2 linked regions of the Homo sapiens genome follow. The protein of the gene in region 1 interacts with the protein of each later gene in a biochemical or structural test. Each region holds a gene or a part of one and is shown on either strand. Other genes may lie near its edges.

What was found.
Region 2: the proteins of HHIP (region 1) and DHH are reported together in a solved structure, tested with the Homo sapiens proteins (one study listed by IntAct).

What each region holds. Positions count from the first base shown.
Region 1 is NC_000004.12:144,643,709-144,647,617, reverse strand, and holds the start of HHIP (hedgehog-interacting protein precursor), read right to left. Parts: upstream 1,463-3,909; 5' UTR 943-1,462; coding exon 664-942; intron 1-663. UniProt on the Homo sapiens protein: Modulates hedgehog signaling in several cell types including brain and lung through direct interaction with members of the hedgehog family.
Region 2 is NC_000012.12:49,092,807-49,096,715, forward strand, and holds the start of DHH (desert hedgehog protein preproprotein), read right to left. Parts: upstream 1,996-3,909; 5' UTR 1,707-1,995; coding exon 1,404-1,706; intron 1,383-1,403; exon of another isoform or gene 1,316-1,382; intron 613-1,315; exon of another isoform or gene 443-612; intron 111-442; exon of another isoform or gene 1-110.

The sequences.
Region 1 (3,909 bases):
AACTGACCCTGAAAGTCTGAATTTATAATGTTACAAAATGACGGAGAATCGTCTCAGTTTTATGTGATAAATAACGCCCCAGCAAAATCTTTCGCCAGTTTTTTTCAGGTCCCTAACCGGAGGACCAGGAGTTCCTTTCTGTTGGTTTAACTAATGTAATGCAAGACACCCCCCTCTGACGGGGCTGGGGATCATAAACCAACCATGCTTCAACATCCTTTACGATTCAATCCTCTCCCTAACCGAGCACGTGGAGAAAACAGCACAAATCTTTTTACCCTAGAAAAATAAGCCGGAAACCACAGCCACCTTAATTTACAGTTTCACCGCAGCCAATGCCCCATTCGATCCAAAACACACTGTTCATCGCGATTCTTTTAAAATATTTACCCAGCCCAGGGTGCGGGTACCGCAGAAACGTCTGTTTTCAGAGATAGGCAAGTTTGCACAGCATCCCGACCGCGGACTCTGGGGGAGGAAATGCTACTTGCTTACCCCAGAGGAACACACAACGGAATCACGTTAGCGCTATAGAAAAGTTATGGAAAGAACTCCCCCAAAGAAGTTTTGACCTTCTTACAACCACCGGCTTTGCCAGAGCCACAGGGAACCCCACCCAGCCAATATGCCAAGTACGCATCCGTGAAGCCGGTGAGTGCCTACCTTATTCTCCAGGCGCCCTAGCCCCGGGCTGTCACTCCGCAGGCAGCAGGACAGCCGAGGGTAGAAGCCACCGCACAGCATCTCTCCCCCACTCAGCAGCTCCAGCTGGGACATCATCCTCCTGTCTCTCCTTTTCAGGCGCTTCGGGGGGTTCCCATTCAGGCACCTTCTCCTCCTTGCTCCGCTCCCTTCGTTTCTTTCCCCAAACTTAGCATCTCCTTCAAAGAAGCCCAGAGCCACGGCCAGCAGCAGCAGCTTAAAGGAGAGCATCTTCAGCATCGTCTGCCCAGAGCAGCAGGGGCTGGGCGCGGGAGGATGGGGGGGAACGCCACTGCCCAGCAGGGGCACTAGGGCGCAGCTCCAGGAGGAGTTTGCGGGGCTGTAGGGCACTCCAGAGACAGAGGGAGGTGGCGGGGACAAAAATATGTACAGCGATGCAACTTTGCAAAAAATAAAAGACGCGGCGATGGGTCCAATGCCTTAGGGGAGCCCGAGGAGCGAGATAAAGTTGTGCGGATGACACCGTTTGCAGTTGTGCCAGTGTCAGTTGGGTTGGGGGCTTTCTGCTGCGGCTGGGAAGTGGGAGGAGGAGAAGGAGTTGGAAGAGGAGGAAGAAAAGGAGAGGACAGCCACAGATGTTCACTTGTCCGTGTAACGGGAGTTGTTTAGGTGGGACAGTAGCAGGAACAGAAACGGCGACGGCGGCGGCGGGGCAGGCGGAGGCAGGGCCAGCGCTGGGCTCTAGATGATGCTGAGGTCTCCTCTGCCGGCGGCTGCAGCTTCTCACACAGCCTCTCATGTTTCGTTCCCTCTTTTCTTCTTCTTTTTAACTAGCGCGCGGGGAGGTGCTGCCACAGCGCGCCCCTTGACGTCACCGCTTCTCGCGCGCCCCCGCCCAGGGTGGAGGGAAGGGGAGGGGGCGGCCCCCGCGCGAGCGCGTCCCCCGGGCCCCGGCGGCCTCCCTGCTGCGGCGGGGAGGGGCGGCTAGCCGCGACGGCGGCGGACGGAGGGGGAGGGCCGCGAGCCTTCGGAACCAGCCTCGAGGGTGCTGAACCCCGCGCGCCCGCCTCGCCGCGGCCCCCGGGTGGGGGCGTCCACGGCCCGGGTTCCCGGCGGGCTTGGGGCAGGGACGCAGTCCGGAGATTCCGGGACTGCCCGGCTGCTGCAGCCCGCAGGCTCCTCTCTCCTCCCCGCTTCCCCTCCGCACTGCCTGGGCTAAAGGCGGCCAAGCTGAGGCTCCGAAAGAAAGTAAGTAAGAGTGGGCCGTAGGAGGTGGGAAGGGAGGGACCCCTTCCAGGGCCATCCCCACCTCAGCCCCCCGGCCCGCCCCTCGCCCCGTGGGAGGGTGAACTAAGTGGGCTGGAGCGGACGGGAGGGAGCTTTTGGGCCCCTTTGTCTCCCCCAGCCGCACTGACACCCCCATTTTCCACACTGATTTTCAACGTGAAGCTCAAGTCCTCAAAGATCTTTCTTGGGGTCTGACTTAGAGGCAGGGGGACATCCCAGATGCCGTTGAGTAGGCTGAGATGGTTTGGAGACTCATCCTCGCCGGAGGTCCTGCAAGCCACTGAAGTGGCACAGACGCGTGTGCGCGGAGTGGGGCGGTGTGTCGGGCCACAGGCCAAGCCCAAGTCGGCCTCCCAGAGTGTTTGCCACGGTTTGGGCGGGTTAGTCCCCGACGCCCCTTTCAGGTCCCCACATGTGTTCGGGAATAAGCCGGGCCCCGCTGGTACCATCTGGGAACACAAGTTCTTGGGCCGCAGGTGGACGGAGAGAGAAGCTGGGCGCGGAATTAGTGTTCGTTTTAACACACACAAACACACACACACACACACACACACACACACCTGCACGCACGCGCGCGCAGTCCCTGGGGAGAGGTTCCCCTGGGTGTAGAAACAGAGGCGTTAGATCTGGAGAAAGAATTAGATGCAAGTCTGAGGGCATCCAGAAGCGCTGTGCTCTACTTATCCCCGTGTATACAAGTAAATTAACCTTTTCCCCAGCTAGACAAAGTCTGTGTAAATAGTGTGTCTAAAAAGATGTCTACGTTATCAGGAGCGGTGACTTGAGGTTTACTGGATCCCTGCAAGTTGGCATCAGGACGAGCTTCTATAGGGTTGCCCACAAAATGCGCTTCTAGCCCACTTGGGTATTTAACAGAGAAGCTGATTTCCCAGAAGATGGGCTTTGATGAGGAGATAAGGCAGTTGTCCCATTTTGGCAATGGAGGAATGTTCACCACATTTGGGTTTGCTTCACTTGTTGGACATTGATTTCGCCAAGTGATTGCAAAAGTTGGTGATGGTTGAGGTGGGCAGTTGATTAAATTAATCACTTCTGGTCACAGTGGCTAGGTAAGGCTTCTGTCTTTTTCACTTCCTGAGCCTGGATATTAGTGAAGTTAGGTTTTTCCCCAAAGAGATGACACATCAGAATAACTGAAAAGAATCTGCTAGGATGTTTGGCCCAGTCCTCAGCTAAATGTAGAGCCCCCATGACATATTTAACATTTTCCCCAGGGGCTGTTGTATACACATGACTTCTTCATGCATGTGATTGTAAGTCCACTTTGGATCTCACATACTTTTTTTTATCTGACATTCTTTCTGCTTTGAGGACTTTTAATATAAAATTAATCAGAAAGCAGTAAGCACTTTAAGACTTTAAACTCATTAATAGATCTCCAGATGAATCTCATCAAATTTAAATCACTTGCACAATTTCATCTCATTAGGTAGTTTGAGAATAAGGACTCGGATCCAATCTGGGGTGCTTTCCACTATCTAACCCTTTCTTCCCAAATTCCAGTTTTATATTCTTTTTCCAAAATAAAAGTCCTTCTAAAATCGTATTTCAGTAGTTTGAGCTCCTACTCTGATAAATTCCTGTTAGTAGTTTTGAAACAGGCCTTTCTTATGGCTTATACTAAGGCCACTTAAAGGTAAATTTATTTTGGTTTTAAAATACTATGCATCTGTTATAACCTACGACCCTAAGATATAGAAAGTTTATAAAAGATTACTGAAATAAGACATGCTTGTTATTTCTTGATATATGGAAATTAGAATTGATTTCATATACTGTTTGTCCTGAAAGTCAATAAATTGGGTCACTTAGGAGATAGCTTGAGCTTATTCTTAGTGTTACTGATATAATTTCTAAACAGTTACTAAGCAGTGTTATACAAATGGACTAACTTCTGATTTGTTTTTTCCAGAGGGAAAATTGCAACCCTTGCCTACA
Region 2 (3,909 bases), on another chromosome or scaffold:
TTGTTCTGCCCACTCTGCTGCAGGTGGCAACCAGAGGAAAGGGCCACAATGTTCCACGGCCAAGGAGGAAAGAAGGAATGCCCCTTTTCCCATCTCTAGGTAGGAGGAAGGCTTCAGGGCAGAAGCAAAAGGAATTATTTCTTCCCTGGACAGGTTTTCCTAACAAAGTAACCTGGAAAACTATGGCAATTAATCAGAGGAAATCCGTACCCCTCCCTCTCCCCCCACCTCCCCACTCCATACACAATTAGGTGGTGTAATGGAAAGTATATAGGGCTTAGAATCAGGAGTCCTGAATTCTAGTCCCAGCCATGCCACTTTAAATTGTGAGAGTTTAAATTGCTTTTCCTCCTGGGGGAAGTCCAGCTCTCAGATGTAAAATGAGGGTGGCAGTGGGGGTGGGGAGGGTTGGAGGAATGTCATCTCTCAAGTTTTCTTTCAGTTCTAACATTCAAGATCACTGGCCAGGCTGGATGAAGTGGCTCACACCTGTAATCCAGCACTTTGGGAGGCCGAGGTGGGAGGATCCCTTGAGCTCAGGAGTTCAAGACTAGCCTAGGCAACATGGCAAGACCCCGTCTCTACAAAAAATAAAAAATAAATCACTCGCCAGAGGTGGTCCTTCTCTTCCACCTCACTCTAGGTGGTTCCAATGCTCAAAAATGGTAGTTGAATTTATCCTAATTATGTAATTCCAAGGAAAGCCCCTGAGATAGGCAGAGCTTGGAAGACTTAGGAGCCCTCTGATTCTCAGGTGGGTCCATCTGTTATTCTCACTGAGGATTACTTTTTAACCCCAAGATTATCGTTTAGACCCTAGGATAGCCCTAGAATAGACCCTAGAATAGATGTGTCCTGGTTCTAGGACACGTTTCCCATGCCAAAAGCAATGTCTGCCCAGCCCCTCCTCAGGTAGATGGTCTGGTGACCTGACCCTTGGCCACCCCTGTCCCAGCCCTTTTCAGTCTCTTCTTTTCGGCCCACAGAGCTTTTCTACAATCAGGTCAGGAGCCAGGCTTCTGTCTGCTACCTAGCCAGCTCCTGGCCCCCAGCTCACCCCAGCCCTTCCTGCCTGGCTGGGTGGCTGACCCCCGGTCCACGCCTCAGCCATTTCCCGTCTCGCCTGCCGCCATCCTCCTTTCCCCGCCCTCGCTGCCTCTACCAGCTTCACTCTCACTAGTCAGTCCCTCCTCCCCTCCCCATCCCAGACTATTCTAGTCGGGAGCCGTCCTAATTACTCTGTCCAGACTGCAAGGATTTTTCCCCCCCCTGGGGCTGGTGACAAGGGAAATCTCTAAGGCTAAACTCTCTGTAGGTGAAGCTGGACTCACCCACCTGGGCTGCCATAGGAAAACGGAGGAGCTGGCAGTGCCCCGGCGCAGGTAGGGAGAGGCCCTCCTTACCTCGGTCATCAGGCGGTCGGCTCCACTGTTCTCCTCATCCTTGAAGATGATGTCGGGGTTGTAGTTGGGCACGAGGTCCCGGAAGCGCTCGGAGCCCCTTGCCACCCTCCCCTCCGCTGGCCCACTGGCGCCCAGGGTCCGCTCTGGCACGCCGGGCACAAATTGCTTGTAGAGTAGCGGCACGAGCTGCTTGCGCGCATAGCGGCGCCGGCCAACCGGCCCCCGGCCCGGCCCGCAGCTCTGGGCTGGCAGCGCCAGAAGTGCCAAGCAGCACAGGGGCAGTAGATTGGTCAGGAGAGCCATGGATACAGCGGACCTCGGCCAAAAGGGAGCGTTCTTGTCCTCACTAACTCTCCTGTCAGTTAGGCATCTCCACAGGCACCAGAGAGGGCAGCAGGCACAGCTGCCCCCAGAGTGCCCTAGAGCTCTTGTGGCTCCGTGCACCTGGCTGCTGCTAGCTCTGCCCACGTGCCCCGGGAGCGGGCGGGGGGTGTCTAGGACCTGCTACTGACAAACCATCATAGCAGGGAAGGGGGGTCGTGGGTGAGTGCCAGCCCAGCCCGTCTCTGCTGCAGGACTCTGGTGCTGCCAGAACGCCCGGACTCCGGACTCCGCCTTAAGTGGCCCCTGGCCCCGCCCTCCGCCCTTCTCCCAAGACCGTCCCACCCCCTCCCACCCGGGCGGGGGATCTAGCCGGTCACTGCTGGTCCATTTTGCGACTGAAGTGTGTCCCATCCTGGAAACCAGGCAGACACCTGCCTAGGAAATACTTGTAGCTTTACAGTCCTTGGCTGCCTAAACATCCTTCTACCTCCAAGCTTAAACTTGGAACCAAACCACCCTCCTCTGATACTTGAATTGGAATTTTTACTCTCTCAAAGCCTACCCTGGCAGGCCATGCCCTCCGCTGTCATCCAGGAAGTATGGGTTCCAATTTCTGCCCAAGACCAGCCAAGCCCTTTGGGCATACAACCAGAGCCTCCCTTCTCTGTAGTCCTCCCCAGATCTCCCCGACTTCCATCTCTCCTCACATTCAGCATTAAGCAGGACTGGGAGGTGAGGATACCAGGGGCCCATTTCTCTACTAACTTTGCAGTCTCCTTTGGAACTTCCCCAGAACCAGGAACAGAGCTTGGTACTTATTGTCTCATTTAGGACTTCCAACTTTTTTCCCCTTCTCTTCTTTGCCAGGCATCTAATAGCTGCTGTTTTTCAAATGAATGACTTCTCAGTTGGAAGCTGCTGAAGGGCAGTGGACACTCAAAAGTCTTTGTAAGAGGTGAGGATCACTTCCCTTAACCGTCCATCTAGGCACCTCTCCAGCTTTCTCCCTCTCTGGACTCCCGGGGCTCCATTTTCAGCCACTCAGATCTCATCTCAGAGGCACCACGTCCAATTTCTTTTGTTTAGAAGTCATTTCTTCTAAGAAGCCTTCCTTGATGTCCCAACACTGCCCACCTGTGTTCCCTCGAGAACCATTACTTAACTGCAGTGTTAGAACAGTATTAGAATTATCTGGCACCTTACTAGACAAAGCAATCTTAAGCACACACATATTTATCATGTATCTCCAAGGTTAAGTGCCTACTCTACAGAAGGGTGCTTTGCAAGCATTTGTGGAATCTACACTTTGTGTTTCATATTCACCCTCCCCTCACCACACTCTATGGCTAGTACTCATAGCAACTTTGTGTACATCAGAAAAAACCAGGCCAGGCACAGTGGCTCACTCCTGTAATCCCAACACTTTGGGGGCGAGGCAAGGACTGCTTGAGGCCATGAGTTGAAGACCAACTTGGTCAACATAGTGACACCCCGTTTCAAAAAAAAAAAATTAATTAGTGGGAGGTAGTGGTACATGCCTGTAGTCTTAGGTACTCAGGAGGCTGAGGAAGGAGGATCACTTGGGTGCAAGAGTTCAAGGCTGTAGAGTGAGCTAAGATCATGCCACTGCACTCTAACCTGGGTGACAGAGTGAGGACCCCCCCCCCCAAAAAAAAGATGGCTGGGTGTTGTGGCTAACCCCTGTAATTCCATCATTTGGGGAGTCCAAGGTAGGTGGATCACTTGAGCTCAGGAGTTCAAGACCAGCCCAGGCAACATGGCAAAACCCCATCTCTACTAAAAATACAAAAATTAGCCAGGCATGGTAGCATGTGTCTGTTGTCCTAGCTATTCTGGAGCCTGAGCTGGAAGAATGGCTTGAGCCCAGAATGCGGAGGTTGCAGTGAGCTGAGATTGCACCACTGCACTCCAGCCAGGGTGATAGAGCCAGACCTTGTCTCACAAAAAAAAAAAAAAAAAAAAGAAGAAGAAAAAAGAAAAAAAAAGCACCCCTTCCTCAAGATGACTGACATTTATTAGAAAACTATCATAGTAACTATCCACACAATGACTATGAGGTGAATGGTGTCCCTGGAAGCTGTGCAATACACAATCTGTATAAGCCTAAGTTTTGCGCTCTTACTCCCAACATAGCACATGGGCTTTTCAAGAAACTGATGGC